4 linked regions of the Homo sapiens genome follow. The protein of the gene in region 1 purifies or fractionates together with the protein of each later gene. This does not show direct contact. Each region holds a gene or a part of one and is shown on either strand. Other genes may lie near its edges.

Region 1 (3,563 bases):
TTCTGACAGCCGGGACGAGGGACATGTAGAAAAATAGACTCTGAGCAGGTTGCTTGGCCTCACAAAATAATCTTTCCCCCGTGAGTACAGTTCACATGATCATAATAAATTATCCAAGAAACAAACTATTTAAGGCTCTTGAAGGTCCGGTTCATATTATTTAAAACATCTATTCATACCAAACAAATAAATAGCCAGGAGAGGAGGAAAAAATAACCAAAATAAAACAATAACCAAAAAAATTCAAAAAATATATATCAACTAAGCACAACAACAAAACTTCCCGGGGTCCTTGTTTCCTTAGAGTCTACTTTGGACTGTCCTACTTTATTATTCTTATTCTTATTATAACTCAGTCTGGTTCGTGCGCCTTTTCCGAGTGTCTTTTTGCTTTGCGTTGCTGTTGCTGCCCCGCCCCGCCCCCTCCCGCGCCCCTCCCCCGGCCCCCCGGCTTCAGCTGGACTTGACCGCCATGCCCAGCGGGTGCAGGGCCTCGCTGTCCAGGAGCCAGGTGCCTATTTGGTAGAGCAGCTGCGAGTACCAGTGGATGCCCGCGGTGGCCCCCGCACCCGGAGCGTCGGCAGCACCTGGAGCGGTTAGGGCTACTCTGCCGCCGCCGCCCCCGCGGTCCCCGCCGCCGCTGTCCCCGCCGCGGTCCGTGCGCGCGGGCGCCAGTGCAGCCAGGAGCGCGTGCGCCAGGCGGAAGGGCGCGAAGGCCCGGTGCGCCCAGCTGTGCTCCTCGATGACCGCGTAGCACGAGGCCAGCACCCGGTTGATGAGAATGGTGCCCTGGGCCGTGAGCGGCGCGTAGGCGCCCGCGGCCTCCTCGCTTAGGGTCACGCTGTGCACAGCGGCGGGCAGGAGCCGGCGGTCCCCGTCACGCTCGGCCACCACGTACACGCGCTGGCCCGGGCGCACGCGGCTGGCGAACAGCGCCCGAGGCCCCAGTGCGCCCCCGGAAGGCGGCCCCGAGCCCGAGGACGCCTCGGGCTCCCCGGTGGCCGAGTCGTTGTGCGGCGCCACAAAGAGCAGGTGCGCGGCGGTGAGCAGCAGGCGCTCGCGCGGCTCCCGCGTCTCGATCACGTAGAAGACCTTCTTGGCGCCGTCGTCGCGGTCCAGGAAAGTGAGGAAGTCGCTGTAGAGCAGCCGGCCCTGGTCGTCCGCCGCCAGCACGCGGTCCCCGGGGCTCAGGTCCTTCACCAGCTTGGTGCCGCCCTGCTCCAGGTGCACCGTGGCCGAGCCCGGGAAGCAGCCTCCCGATTTGGCCGCCACCGAGTTCTCTGCGGGTGAGGAGAAGGGAAAGAAGAGAGGACAGGGCATTGAGTTCCGAGAGGGAGGCGCGTCTCGGGGAGGAGGGCGCACGCTTGGTGCCCGCGCTCCTAGGCCAGGGGTGCGCAAGGCGCGGGGCGGGGCGATTGATTCCAGGCGGGTCCCGCACACACCTCCCTCCCCCAACCCCACTGCCCCAGGGACAGGATTCCGACACATTCCTTAACGACTCTCTAAGTCTGGGCTGGCGGTCACAGAGGTTGGCTGGCGTTTCCTGCAGAGGCCGGTGACACTCTTTCCTTCCGCCTTCCTCCAACCCCACCCCCAGCTCCGCACACACCCGGCCTCGCCGCGAATCCATCCAGAGGGTGTTTGCTCTGCACTTGGATTCCTCAGGAAGCCTCCTTGAGCTCCCGCGGGCGCCGGGCGCACCCTCCTTCCCTCCCGCCCCGGCGCGGGGCGCGGCGCCTGCTCGCGCACTCAGCACCCGGGCTGCGCGGCGGAAACCCCTGGCCCGCCTGCCCGCCTGCCCGCCTGCCCGCAGCACCCTGCCGCGCCTCGGCGTGGGCCTGCGGAGGGGCGGGGGCGGGGAGTGAAAAATAGCTGCAGTAGTTGTAGCAACTGGACAAACATTCCAGAGATTGGCCGAGGTGTGAAAATCCGAGGCTTGTGTGGATTTTCTAATTAAAATCCAATAAAGGGCCCAGCATTGTCATTGTGATTTCTGGGATAAACAGGAGACACTCTTGGAAGGGGACACTTCCATTTTCTCCCCTCCCTGTTCTCAGCTCACTCTCTCCCCAGCTCGCGGGCCTCCCCCTCCCTATTTGCTCAGGTGCAACCCCCCCCCACCCCGTGTGCAATTCACAAGCACTATTTGCACAGCCAGGCCTCTCTTCCAAGCACTCAAGATGTGTATTTGAATTTTAAATGGCGGGGCCTGTTCGGAGCGCTGGAAGCGCCGGGTCTCAAGGCCCCTTGACTACCCGCTTTCTCGAGCCCTCTGTCGCTCTCTGAGGCTCACTGTCCCCAGGACAATAATTGAAGTTGGGGCGGAGCGCAGGGGGCCGGGGAGGAGGGCGGGGAGGGCCGTCTTCTTTGCATTCCAATCTCCGGGATCATGCTTTTTGCAAATAGAGATTGCCAGAAAGAATCTTCCTGCTGGAATTACAGGGGGCTTTTAATCTTCTCATCGGTTTCTCTGGCATGAAGTGCGGGGCTGGCCGTTGGAGGCCCTCCGTAGCCCCCCGGAATGCGACCCCGGGCGCTGGCGAGCCCGAGTCGTCGAGTCGCACGGCCCGGCTTGACACGCTGCGCCCCGCGCCCCCGCCCGTGTGCTCAGAATGCCAATGAGCGGCTCCCGCGCCGCGGCTCCGCTCTCCCGGCGCGATCCGGGGGATGGATTAGCGCTGCTCACTTGGGAGGAGGCCTCCGGAGACCCCCGCTAGGGGGACCCCGCGGGCAGGGAGCCGGGGAGGAGGTTTTGCGCAGGGGGCGCCCTGGGCCCAGGGGCCGCCGCCGAGCCCGCGAGGTGGGGGCGCCGCCTCCTGCCTGCCTGCAGCCGGGAGCTCTCCGGGCCGCACACCCGCCCCTGCCGCCCCCGCTCCACGCCTTTGCTTTCTGTGGGGACGAGAAGCCACTCTAGCCTTTACCTACAAGTGTGCCTTGACACCTTAACAGTGTTTTCCTACTAACATAGTGCCATTAACATGGAATTTAGGAGACAAGTAGGGAAGCCTGGAAGGGGGTTGAGGAAGGCAGAGTTTCCCCGAAATTCACCGTGAACGGCTTTGCTAAACGTGCCAATTTATGCGGGCGGAGAAGAGCGCTGTGCACACAGCCTCGGGCCGGAGGTTTGCGTGCGCGCGATGGCGCCTCCTCCACGGCTGTTCCTCGCCGGCAACAGCGTGTGGCGTTGCAGGCCCAGAGAAGACAGCCTCGCGCCGACTCGGGCCGGCGTTTCGGGGCCTGCCCGCCGCCCAGGGCGTCCCGGCCCGGCTCCCAGTAGGAACGCAGGCTCCGGGCGCGCCGCCTCCAGATGCTGGAGGTGGTTGCCCCTGGGTTTACTGCCGCCCACCAGGCCTCTCCCCAAAGGCAGCTTAGGATCCACGGGCGCCCGGCGGGGAGGAGCCAGGACGCGGGCTCCGGGGCAGGATAGACACCCCTGCGCTTGGGATAGCGGGTGGGGGCGGTTGGTTCTTAAGCCCTAAACGAGAGGAAGGAGCTCGCCCAGACCTGGCTAACCGCGCAGGGCTGTCTTCCCTCGCCTGGAAGGGCCTAGCGCCCCTCCCCCA
Region 2 (4,117 bases), on another chromosome or scaffold:
CCCGCTAATTCTGCTTGTAGCATCGTTATTAAGTTTCCACTGTTTGCTTCTGACCTGTTTGATGGATTGTTGCTCTTCCTAAAACTATTCTGACTCTACAAATTCCTTCACATAATTCAAGTTTTCGTACTGAGAGAAATGAGGAAGTAGAAAGAAGAAAACAAAAACTAGATGGGGGATTTTTACCCTTCCTTGCTAAATAAAGGTTTACCTGTCGTTAATGGTCAGTGTCATTCCAAATGGAGTGATTTGTCCTATCAACTGTGAGGAGGTTGCCTATTTTAAGGATGGAGAGGCACTGCCTGGTAGATGCCATCATGACTAAAGGTGTCTCCTTGGCGAAAGTTCTGTTACATAGAAAACCCATTGAGCCACAAACTCCCTCAGTCAAGAGACCCACATTACCAAGTTCTTACTCAACATTTTCCTCGAATTCCTCAGACAGCTTTTTCCTGCATATGCCTTTCTCTAGACATTGGAGGAGGGGGCAGGAGAAGATAGGGAGAGCAAACACCACAGATTTAAAATTCTGGTTTTTGTTTCATTTATTTAAATAAATATAAATATAAATTTTATATAAACCTATTCACATACAAAGGGACTTCCAGCGACTTAGATTTTAAATTCTCCCCAGGCGAAATTTCAGAAAGCAAGACCTACAAGGTCTAATTTTCTAAATTATTTTCAACTTGGGTGTTTTTGTTTGAAAACGACAACAGAAAATAATCAATAAATCCTGTGTTCTTATCGAGTTCTGAAAGAGAGTAGGGATGGGGAACTGACATGTGCTTTCAAAAACCCCATACAGTGTTAAACTTAAACCAACCCTGTTTTTCCTCTGTTATACGACAAGAATGAGTTGAATTATAGGTTATTTACATTTTTTAAAAAAATCTGTAACTTCAAGTTGGAGTCCTAGATAAACAGGTCAAGAAGGAGACGCGAAGGGTCAGGTCCCGGCTTGTCCATTCCAGAACTTCCAGGTTCGTTTCTTCTCCAGATGGGACCACTGCAATGAGCAAGGATTCTGGCCCCTGGGTGCCCCACGCCTTGGCGTTGCCTGGTCTGCCAGGAGCGGGGGATGTGAGGGAGGAGGCCCTCCCTCATAAGGGGGAAATCTCCTTGTCATCGTTGGCTGAGGCCGGCGACAGGGAGTCCTCATCCTCGGAGCGCGCGTAGTGCACCTGGCTCCCGACGCACTTGCAGCCCGCGTGACTGTTCCTCTGCGTGCCCTTCCCCTCCTTCTTGTGCTTCACTCGGCGGTTCTGAAACCAGATTTTCACCTGCTTCTCCGACAGGTTCAGGTAAGTGGCGATTTCAATCCTCCGGAGTCGAGACAGGTACATGTTGGAAGAGAATTCTCTCTCCAGCTCCAGGAGTTGCGTGCTAGTGAACGCCGTCCTCATCCTCTTGCCATTGGGTACCTGGCTGGCGTCAGAGCCTCCTGCGGACCGGCGAAGAGAGGGTAGAGAGGTAAGGCTCGGGCAAGGTGCTCCCACCCCATGTGCTAACCAGGACGCATTTCAGGGACCCACCCGGGGAAGCCCAGCCGAACATCTGTATCCCTTTCCCATTTCAAGGCACGTGGTTGCTTAGCGGGGAAGAAAAGAGACGTGCAAAGCAAATAAAGGTCTTCGATGCGCAGGATGCGAAGTCACAGGATTAAAGAGGGATGGGGGCTTGCACTATCTGATCGCCTCCCTTTGAGCCAAGCGGAGAAGCGCGCAGGCTTAGCCAAAAACGTCAAGACGCTTTAGCCGCCCCGACGCGGGGATGCCACACAGGTTCAAACACACCCACCCCAAATCCCAAGCAGTTAACCTCTGGTTTATCCGCCGTGACGTTCGAGGTCCCTAAGGCCCCAGTATTAATAAGGCAATACTCGAGCACCTACTACTAGGAGTAAAACGCACCAGGCTGAGTGGAGAAGCTGGCAAACTAACTTCCACTTTCGTGGAACTTCTGTGGCTGACTCTACGGTTACACTAAAAGCCCGTCCTCTCTCTTCACCCTGTCCCCGGGCTCCCACTTCCTCCACTGGAGGTGGAAAGTTTGCTCCAGGAGCGCGAAAGGCGCGGAGCGCAGGTGCCCCAAGACCCCGCCCTACCCATGGTGAGGCAGTGGAATCTCCGCGGGTCCGCCACGTTGTAGGTGGTGGCGGTGCAGACAGGTGCGTGGTGCTGCGGGTGCCCCAAGGCCGCCGCGGCCGCCGCCGCCGCTGCTGCTGCTGCCGCCGCCGCGGCCGAGCCAGGCTGCTGGGGCTGATGATGGTGATGGTGGTGCTGCGGCGGGTGGTGGTGATGATGCGCATGGTTCACCCGCGGGCAAAACTGCGCGTCCCCAGGAGCCGAAGAGAACTGGCCCTTAAGCAGAGGCAGTGCCCCTGCGGCCCCTGCCACCCCACTGCCTCCGGCCCCGGTAACCCCGGCCCCTGCGCCCCCGCTGCCGGCGCCCACAGACCCCCGAGAGGAGTGCAGGTGCGAAGTGACGCAGAGAGGGCACACGCAGAACGCGCCGCTCTTGCGGGACGGGCAGCCGGGGCCGGACACGGACATCACCAATGGGGGCGGCATGCCAAGCGGGATGAAGAAATCCGGCCCGGGGTGCGGTTCAGGCAGCGAGGGCGCAGGCCGTGAGGTGTCCTTGATGATGAGCGAGTCGACATAGAAGGAGCGCGACATGTCGAGAGGGGTGGGTGGCTGGAAGCCCCGGCAGTTCGCGGCGACCCCTCTCCTCTAGTGTTCTAAGCTCTGCCCTGGGAGCCGCGCAGACACGGGCAGTCAAGCCCTTGGGGACGCAGAGGTGTTGGCGTCTGGGCTGGGAACAAAGGGGTCCCCGGAGAGGGCTGGTCCTCACGTCCCCCGCCCGGCGCCCCGGCTCGGGTATTTTATAGCCCCCCACCCTGGCACGTGATGCTGCGGAGTACCGCTCGGCTCAGGCTCCTCGGCAGCTCCGCACCCTCGGGATAGGCTGCCCGAGTCACAACAGAAGCCGCGAGGAGGGGCGGGCGCGCGGCGGGGAAGAACTCGGGGGAGGGGGATGGGGGAGACTTTGCAAAGTGTAGGTTTTGTTAATTTCCCGGGGAGGCCGGCCTCCTCCCCCTCTTTCTCCACGCTTTACTGAGAAATCACAGCGCTGCATCCTCCATCCCACCCCCTCTCGCTACCCTGGCCGCAGCCCAACTCTTCCCCACGCCCCACCGCAAAGCGTACCAGGTGGGGACTTGGAGGCTTATTTAATAGGAATGCTCAGTGTTTCCAGCTCCTCTGTGGTAGGGGTGGCTGCGGCGCGGTGAAGTGTGAGGCCTGCGGTTTGGAGCAGGATTGTGCGGGCGACGGACTGGCAGTCGTCCAGTCCCTGAGCGCAGCTCTGGCCACGGTTACACCTACCCCTGTCCACAGCTTTTGGACTTGGCAGAGGTCATTCAGGTGGTTAGTTCAGGACTGTCCGGCGCAGAACTGTGAGGCCTCCCAGCTAAGAAACCGTCAAGCTTTTCATGCTGATGTTCGACAAGGTCTGAAGTGTCTTTGTACTTGGGGCCCTCCTGGGGCCACTCAGACCAACGACCCTTCCTTGTTTCCCTTTCTGATCGGCACCTCCCACTTCCGCAGAGAGAGAGAGATGTTGAAGAGTCACCCTTTTCTTTCTCCAAGTAGTAACACCATGGCATTCCAGGGCAATCCTACAAACTCCATCCTGAAGATTTTGGAGGGAGGACCTCAAACACCAAGCCCTCCTAAAGACGCAGCAGGGATTAGATAGACCTTCGCTCTGGGTCTGAGGATTTCCTGTCCCTCATTTTTACCAATCATGGGCAGCTTAGCAAGGCTAACCAGGAAGCACTCTTTCCTCTGCATCTTAAGAACCTAAAAAGGATGAAGAGGATTCAGCCATCCAGGGAATCTTGCCTCTGATTGGCAGAAGTGGCTTTGTAAGGGAACTCTCTCTGGTCCATGGAAGTCTTGCACACCCCTTACTGCCCGAGAGAGGGTGGCTGCCAAACTATTGGGACTATTTATCTTCGGAGAAGGCAAGGCAGCAGAGGTGGCCATTTTCTCTCTTCATTTCCCCCTGCAGAAAAGCGGGCTGGGGCCATGTGGTTGGGCAATAGTTAGAA
Region 3 (4,179 bases), on another chromosome or scaffold:
AGGCATGAGCCACCATGCCAGGCCAAGTCGGCTTTTTCTAAAGTTACGTCTCCTGCCCACGTGCTATAGAAACTGGATTGTTTTCTACTTCATTTTTTAATGAAAACATAACATTAACAAAATACCCTGTTGCAAAATTTTAAAAACAAAACCAAAAAGCTTATTCCATGAAGGATAAGACTACATATAACCAGCTAAGTAATTCCACAAAGTGTAAGTTATTGAGCAATTGCTTACTATTCATGACAATTCCAGTCTTTATCAACTATTTGGTTTGTTGGTGGGGAGGGAAAGGGGTGGGGCATTTTCTGCTTTTTATCATGAATCATTATTTGGGCTTTAAAAAATGCACAGGTAAACCTAATGAATCAAAGTTCAGTTTTCTGAAAATTCCCAGAGAAAGCAGTCATATAATTGTGTATTTGTCGTTTATAGCTCTAGATTCTTACCCTACCCTTACTCAAGGGTAGAGCAATCTAACAAGCCTAAATAATTGTAATTTCACTTTCATAAATGATCTCAAAATTTGAGCTGAAATTTCAAGCCAATTTGGTTGAACTTTTCCAGTTAAAAACTAATTTTGGTCAAAAATGATTTATCCAATGACTCTTTTACAAATAAGTTTTTAATAAAAAATGAAGAAAGGGTAGTGATAGTCAAATAAGATTCTTGTGGTTCTTAACAGACTTGATACTTCTCTTCCAAGTCTAATGAACGTGCAACATACTGGAGAGAGCCTGGCTCTGGGATCAGACAGGCTTGGGTTTGAATGCTGGCTCTACCAATTACTAGCTTTGTGGCTGAACAAGTCAACCTTGGGTCTCAACTTCCTCATTTGCAAATGTGGATCATATTCATTGGGAAATAGGAAGGAGTACAGAGATAACATATGTAAAGTATTCACAGAGTGAGATATTTGGTAAAACTTATCAATGATACATTAAATTCATATGAGAGAAAATGTAAGATATTTATTAGAGTTTACCGGTAATTTTATTTTGATGGTTGATACTTCAGCTTTTTTCCATCAAGTGACCTTTATTGCTATTTAGAAACGAATACAAGACTCTTTGCAATGATTTAAAGTACATAAAGTAAGACCTGATGGTTCCACCACCCCTCCAGCCTAACCCCATGAGATAATCTTCGTTCCACTTTTTTTCTGAGCTCAGATTTTTTTTTTCTTTTTTAAAAAAAACATGGGATGATACTATACATATTATTCTACAACTTGCATTTTTTTTTGTTTTGGAAATATATTCTGGATAGGCTTCCAGTGACGTACTTCCTTCTTCTTAATGTCTCAATATTATTCCATAATATGAACGTACCCTATTGAACCATTTCCTCCAAGGAAGAGCTGTTCTTTCAAAATGCACTTTTTTTTTTTTTTTTCGAGACAGAGTTTCGCTCTTGTTGCCCAGGCTGGATCTATCTCTGCATTAAGAGTGCTTTTATTTTCTTAGGGTAGATTCTCAGAAATAGAACTGATGAATCAAAGTGTGCACAATTTAAATTTTAGTAGATACTACCAATAAGTTACAGCAATTTACACTCTCACTAAGCCTTTTTTTTCTATTCCTTAACTAACCAGAACCGTATCCTTGTGTTTTGTATTATATTTACTAATCTGATGGGCAAAAACCAGCTAGCTCCTCGTTTTAATCTGCATCTCCTACGTTTATGGAGGTTGAGTAACTTTTCATGTTTATTTACCACTTCCATTTCCTCTTCTGGCTTAACCGTTCATGCCTTTCTCCCATTTCCTACTGGTTCTTCGCTTTTTTCTTATTCATGTGTAGGACCTCGTGTATGTATTACTCTGAATTAAATGGTGTAAATAGAATTGATAATTTTAACACACTTCCAAGACGGATAAAAACTACTGAATAGGTATACTTGAGACTTTTGAATAATTTCCCCCCAAACATTCTATTATGAAAATACAGTGCAAGAAAACACTGCAAGGAAATAGTAAAATGTGTAAAGTTCAAGTTCCAATGAACGCCCCCTTTTCCGTAACAGGTGTAAACATCATTTCCTTAACTACTGTGAGATCAGCAACATTTTCCCAGTTGGAAGCTCACTTGCGCGAGAAAGCTAACCATGCTTCGGTCGACAGGCAGCCAACCGCAGAACTCCAGCGCGCAGCGATGCGGGCTGTAGCCCCCTTCTTGGGCCACTGACATGGCAGCCGCGTTGACACACCGCGCCTGGCTTCAAGGAGCCTGCACATGTCACCGGCGGCCAGGGCGACACCCCGTCAGCTCCCCCGAGGTCAGGTCGCGGGCGGCGGTTCCCACCTCCCCGGACCCTGTCCACCCCTCTAGGGTTCTCGCGCGGGAAGAGCCGTTCCAATCGCGACAGGAGAGGCCACTACGCGACCGGGTCGCAATGACAGGCACCCCTCCTGTTGTCAGCCTCACCGAGAAACCCACCCCAGGCTGCCAGCACCCTTACCCAAGCTTCTGTTTCTCCTCCCTACTCATGGGCTCGGCCCCCGCCGTCCACACGGAGGTGGCCGACACCAGGCAGAACGCGGCCGTCGCCGCCACTAGTCTCCATCGCGCTCGCTGGGGAACCGGGGACCCACAGCCCCGGCCGCCGGCTTCGCTCATGGCCCCGCGGTTCCGCGCACGCGCAGCTGCTACGCCCGGCCGGTGAGACACATTGCTGGACGCTGGTGGCCAGGGGGCTGCTAGCCGTGCCGAGACGGGGCGGGATGCGGAGTAACACGGACGGCCGCCGGCGCCAAACTGTTTCCCGAAGCCACCAAGCCGGTCCCCAGCGCCAGCGCTGCCACCGCCCTCCGCCCTCAGTATCCCGGAGCGCCTCCCCCAGCTTTCCGGTGTCGTAGTCTAGGAAACCGCCTCCCCAACGTTACTTCCGGGTAGGGCCGAAGCCGTAGAGCCTCAGGACCAATGGAGACCTCATGGGAGAGGGGCTGTCTCCGGCGACTGGAGAGGGCATTGGCCAGGAGAAGTGAGACGTGGACAAAAGGCGGGACTGGGAAGGGATCTCTCGCTTCGACCCGCCTCCGACCCGCGGAGTTGCCCCCTGAGGACTACCAGTCCCAGTGTGCACTGCTTCTTCCCCGGCTCTCCCGCGAGCCGACTCGGAGCCGTGTCTCTCGCTTCTACCCGGGGTAGGCGCGCTGCACCCTGGGACTTGCGGTCCTCCGAGGTCGCCAGTGGTTGCTGGGATCCCACCTCCCCCTTTCCTCGGCGCCCTACAGTCAACCCTGTCTCGGTGGGCTGCGGAGTCCCGGGAAACCCGTCAGCTGTTTATCTCTCTTCCTCAGAAAGTTGTTTCCCAGAGAGCTGGCTGAATGAGGCGCACTGTCCCCATGTCAGTGCTGCTGCGTTAGGGAATAGTGTTGGAGTAGTCGTCTACCCTCAGGGAAATTCCAAAACACAGTAACAGCAAAATGAATTGAGCCTTTGAAGGCATTGCGCTAAGGTTTTTACTCGCAATCATCTCATGCACTCTTCTCAACTCTGATAGAGTAAGTACCACCATCCCCCTTTTGCAGACGAGAAAACAGAGGCTTAGAAAAGTTGGTTAACAAGAGCTCGTCACACTGCTGTATTAGAATCCATCCAGCCTCTGATTCGGAAGCCCTTGCATTTAACCACCGCGCAGTACTACAAGGATGAAGGAGCACGTGGGTCCTCGTACATGATTAATAATAGTTACCTCAAAAGCTCAATGTAAGGAGAGCTGTGTGGGCTGCAAAGAAGGTTTAATGAAGGAGATTGGAACTTGCAATGAATTTTGATGACCGAGTCCCAGGTTAACTATTGGTAAAATGACACATCGGTTCCTCTTGAAAAACCACATTGTTTTTCTAGTGTGGTCATTCAATAGGTGCGGAGTTTAGGAGCTTCGATGTGATCTCTGTGACCACAGTAAATTACTTACGTGTCCTTTAAGCAGTATTCGGCGGTCTTTCTGGAAACGTTTCTTCCTTGACTTTTATCACCTTACCTCTTACCTCTTAACCTCTTACCTCTTCTCTGGCTGACCCGTTTTCCTTCATTCTCTCGCTACTTTATATTAAAATACAGGTGTTCCCTTAAGGTTTTCTTTTTGTCCTTTTTCTCTCTGTACTCTAATTATTCCTTGGTGATTTCTTCTCATAAGGATTCAGCCAACATATCTCTGTGGTTGATTTCTAAA
Region 4 (3,563 bases), on another chromosome or scaffold:
GCTCCAGTTTTATTTCCAGCAAGATGCATTGATATCTGCAGTCTTCCATCATATCCCAAAGCACTTCATCTGCTCCTCGGATCACCCTAATGGGTCCTTATCTCACCTTCCAGTCAGAGAAGCTTCTGGTGCACAGCACCTCTCGTGTTGTGATGGCTTGCTGTGGTCTCTGAAAGGCCTGTGCCTCAGCTGGGGAAAATGGGGCTTATGTGAAAGAGGCATAACAGCTCCAATGTCTCATTTTATTTGAACCCTCCAGTTGCCTTGTTTTATGCTGTTACACCATCTAATCTAAAGCAAAGAATTTATAGTAAAATTTTAGGCTGGGTGCGGTGGCTCACGCCTGTAATCCCAGCACTTTGGGAGGCCGAGGTGGGTGGATCATCCAAGGTCAGGAGTTCAAGACCAGCCTGGCCAACATGGCAAGACCCTGTCTCTACTAAAAATACAAAAATTAGCTGGGCGTGGTGGCAGGCGCCTGTAATCCCAGCTACTAGGGAGGCTGAGGCAGAAGAATTACTTGAACTCAGGAGGCGGAGGTTGCGGTGAGCCGAGATCATGCCATTGCACTCCAGCCTGGGCAACAAGAGCGAAACTCTGTCTCAAAAAAAAAAAAAATTTTAGATACTGTTTTTTTGAAACGAGATATATATGGGGGCTATAGTCTAGGAACTAGGGCTAGCTCATTTCCTATAAGCTGGGAAGTCAGAAAACTGCTTGGCTGGAAAATTGTACCTGTTTTTTCTATTTGTTGATTTTCTGGAAATAAACTTATACAATAGCAAAAGGTCCCCTCAAAGCAAGAGCTATGGATTCAAATATGCCTCTCAAGCGCAAGTGACAGCCAAAAAAGGTACAAAAAGTGCAAGGGTTGCAGGAGGGGCTCAAAGGAGACAGGGAGATCCTTACGCCCAATTCTGCCAACTCAAGAATGTTCTGCTCTGTGTAAATATTTCACTCTGTTGCTCTGCCGCTTAGAAACAGAGTGGGCTTCAACAGCCCACCTCATCAGAAAACAGCTCCCTCATCATGTAGCATCCAAGCTAGATGGTAATCAGGAGAACCACATGTAACTCCCCTCTCCTGAGTCACACCCAGATCTGCGGCATGTGTCATTCTATCCACCTGCACAGGCCCATGGAAGGAAGGTACTCACTGTGAGCACTGAACTCCTTTCTATGTTTTATTGTGCTTTGCCTTGTAATCTATAACTAAAATAGACCCAGTTTTAAAATATTTTTTACAATGCCCAGTCACTAAAAATTAATGAGCTGCCACAGTAAAAAAAAAAAAAAAAATTACTTGCAGTAACTGTGGGGTTTCTTCTCTCCACTCTAGTCAGACAAATCCTCTCTAAGATCTGGGGTATTTACTCATTAGAACACTTTTAATTCTTTCTTACCAAATAATTGCTACATCCTCTTTCAAAAGGTGCCAAAATAAGGGGGAAGTGGGAGTGAGGATGAAGGAAGAAAAAAAAACACCATAAAACTCTACTGGCCTAACAGCATGAAATTATTATGACTCCATTTATGCCAGCCCACTATGCAGCTCAGACTCTGGATTTGTTCTTTGTAGATATTCTTGTCAATCTCCAGCCTAACCTGATACCTTTAAGTTCATCCAGCAAGAACTCAATACCTTTCCCTGTAACCAGCTGGCTGAACCGCACAACTAAACGCTCCACTTACTTCACCAGGTACAAATGTTCATGGCATTCACCCCACTGTAAATTTTTAAAGTTCACCTCAAAACAGAAAAGATGGAGAAAACCATGGCCTTTGATAGAAAATTTTTGATTATGTAGCTAACAAAATCAAACATATGTGTTTTTAAATTTAAATTCCCATGTATACTTAACCTGTAACAGCTGTTCAGAAATCTACCTGGTGTGGTGTAGGCACAGAGATAACATAAGAAACAGTCCCTGCGTTCAAGGGATTGATAATCTGGAGAGACAAGACAAAGGGAAATGCAGGTGAATACACAACAGTACTCAATCCTCAAATAAGGTTAAAATGTAGAATCGCAGCTCAAAGGAAAGGAATCAAAAGAAGAACTGAGCAAATAAAGGAAAATCATCTTCAAACAGTTAGATGGTGTCACGGAAACAAGAGGAGCCTGACTCTGAAAGAGGGCAGGACTTTCCAAAGAAAGAGGAATGCAGAGGAGGCCATCTTGAGCTAGTAGTACCTAAGCATTTGAGGGGCCAATATTTGTTTGGCTTAATTTGAGATTTGTTTTGTTGTTTTAATAGCAATACAGTTGAGAAGAAATTGAGAATGGTCACATGCCCAAAAGCCAGAACTACAGTTAACCATTCACAGGATTACAAAAATATAATATCCACATTTACTCAAAGAAACTTTAAATTTGGATCCTCCAACCCAAATTAAGGATGTGAGAACTGACTTTGCATAGTTATCTTAGACAGATCTGCTCTTTTTAGAGTGTTCAGGTTTTATTCACTTCATGTTAACTCCTTACCTGATACCTCCCCAAGAACAAGTCACATGTACTTGAGGCAAGATAAGTTTGGAGCATATATGACTACAGAGAAACGGTAAGAGTGTTTAGCACCGAAATTTTCTATGTGTACTTTTTATATAATACTCTAATGGCAAATTCACTCTTGTTAAATGAGTCATTAGAATACATTTGATTTTTTAAAATCTGAAAGATTTTTGGCTGGGCTTGGTGGCTCACACCTATAATCTCAGCACTTTGGGAGGCCAAGGCGGGAAGACTGCTTGAGGCCAGGGGTTTGAGACCATCCTGGGCAACAAAGTAAGACCCCACTTCTACAGAAAAATTAAAAAAAAAAAAAATTAGCCGAGCATGGTGGGGCACACCTCTAGTCCCAGCTATTCGGGAGGCTGAGGCAGGAGGACTGCTTGAGCCCAGGAGTTCAAGGCTGCAGTGAGCAATGATTATGCCACTGCACTCCAGCCTGGGTGACAGAACAATACCCTGTCAATTAAACAAACAAACAAAAAATATGAAAAATTTTTATTACAGATTATTTAGTTTGGGGATGTGAAGTACCCTCCTGTTTCAAAGCCAGCATGACAATACTCTGGTTTTAAACTTTCCTCAAGGCCTAGTATTCGATAGCATAACAGGAGGACTACAGTCAATAATAATTTAACTGTACATTTTAAAATAACTAAAAGTATAATTGGATTGTTTGTAACACAAAAGAAAAATGCTTGAGGGGTTGGATACCCAATTTTCCATGATGTGATTATTACAAATTGCATGCCTGTGCCAAAATATCTCATGTACCCTATAAATATATACACCTACTGTGTATCCTCAAAAATTAAAAATAAATTTTTTTAAAAAATATTTAAAAAAAAGCAAAGCCTGAGAGGAGTTAAAGGAAGGAGAGTACAAAAAATTAAGTTTTCCACTGTTTGTAAGTGGCAAGTGTGAGGCGTCCATGCAAGGCTTCTTTGGCCTCCTCAAAGACAACAAAGGTTTACCAACCAACGGGCCTACCCAGCTCAGGGCACAACCCTTCCCTAATGCCATCCCCACCTCCTCAATACTTCTAAAACCCT

The links.
Region 2: the proteins of SHH (region 1) and GSX2 purify together in Homo sapiens (affinity purification with western blotting; one study listed by BioGRID). This does not show direct contact.
Region 3: the proteins of SHH (region 1) and EDEM3 purify together in Homo sapiens (affinity purification with western blotting, with the first as the bait; one study listed by BioGRID). This does not show direct contact.
Region 4: the proteins of SHH (region 1) and EDEM1 purify together in Homo sapiens (affinity purification with western blotting, with the first as the bait; one study listed by BioGRID). This does not show direct contact.

What each region holds. Positions count from the first base shown.
Region 1 is NC_000007.14:155,802,447-155,806,009, forward strand, and holds part of SHH (sonic hedgehog protein isoform 1 preproprotein), read right to left. Parts: intron 1,281-3,563; coding exon 454-1,280; 3' UTR 1-453.
Region 2 is NC_000004.12:54,098,909-54,103,025, reverse strand, and holds GSX2 (GS homeobox 2), read right to left. Parts: upstream 2,864-4,117; 5' UTR 2,682-2,863; coding exon 2,108-2,681; intron 1,445-2,107; coding exon 1,104-1,444; 3' UTR 528-1,103; downstream 1-527. UniProt on the Homo sapiens protein: Transcription factor that binds 5'-CNAATTAG-3' DNA sequence and regulates the expression of numerous genes including genes important for brain development.
Region 3 is NC_000001.11:184,752,029-184,756,207, forward strand, and holds the start of EDEM3 (ER degradation-enhancing alpha-mannosidase-like protein 3 isoform 2 precursor), read right to left. Parts: upstream 2,831-4,179; 5' UTR 2,619-2,830; coding exon 2,461-2,618; intron 1-2,460. UniProt on the Homo sapiens protein: Involved in endoplasmic reticulum-associated degradation (ERAD). Accelerates the glycoprotein ERAD by proteasomes, by catalyzing mannose trimming from Man8GlcNAc2 to Man7GlcNAc2 in the N-glycans.
Region 4 is NC_000003.12:5,190,656-5,194,218, reverse strand, and holds part of EDEM1 (ER degradation-enhancing alpha-mannosidase-like protein 1), read right to left. Parts: exon of another isoform or gene 1,916-3,563; coding exon of another isoform or gene 1,887-1,915; exon of another isoform or gene 1,862-1,886; intron 1,281-1,861; exon of another isoform or gene 1-1,280. UniProt on the Homo sapiens protein: Extracts misfolded glycoproteins, but not glycoproteins undergoing productive folding, from the calnexin cycle.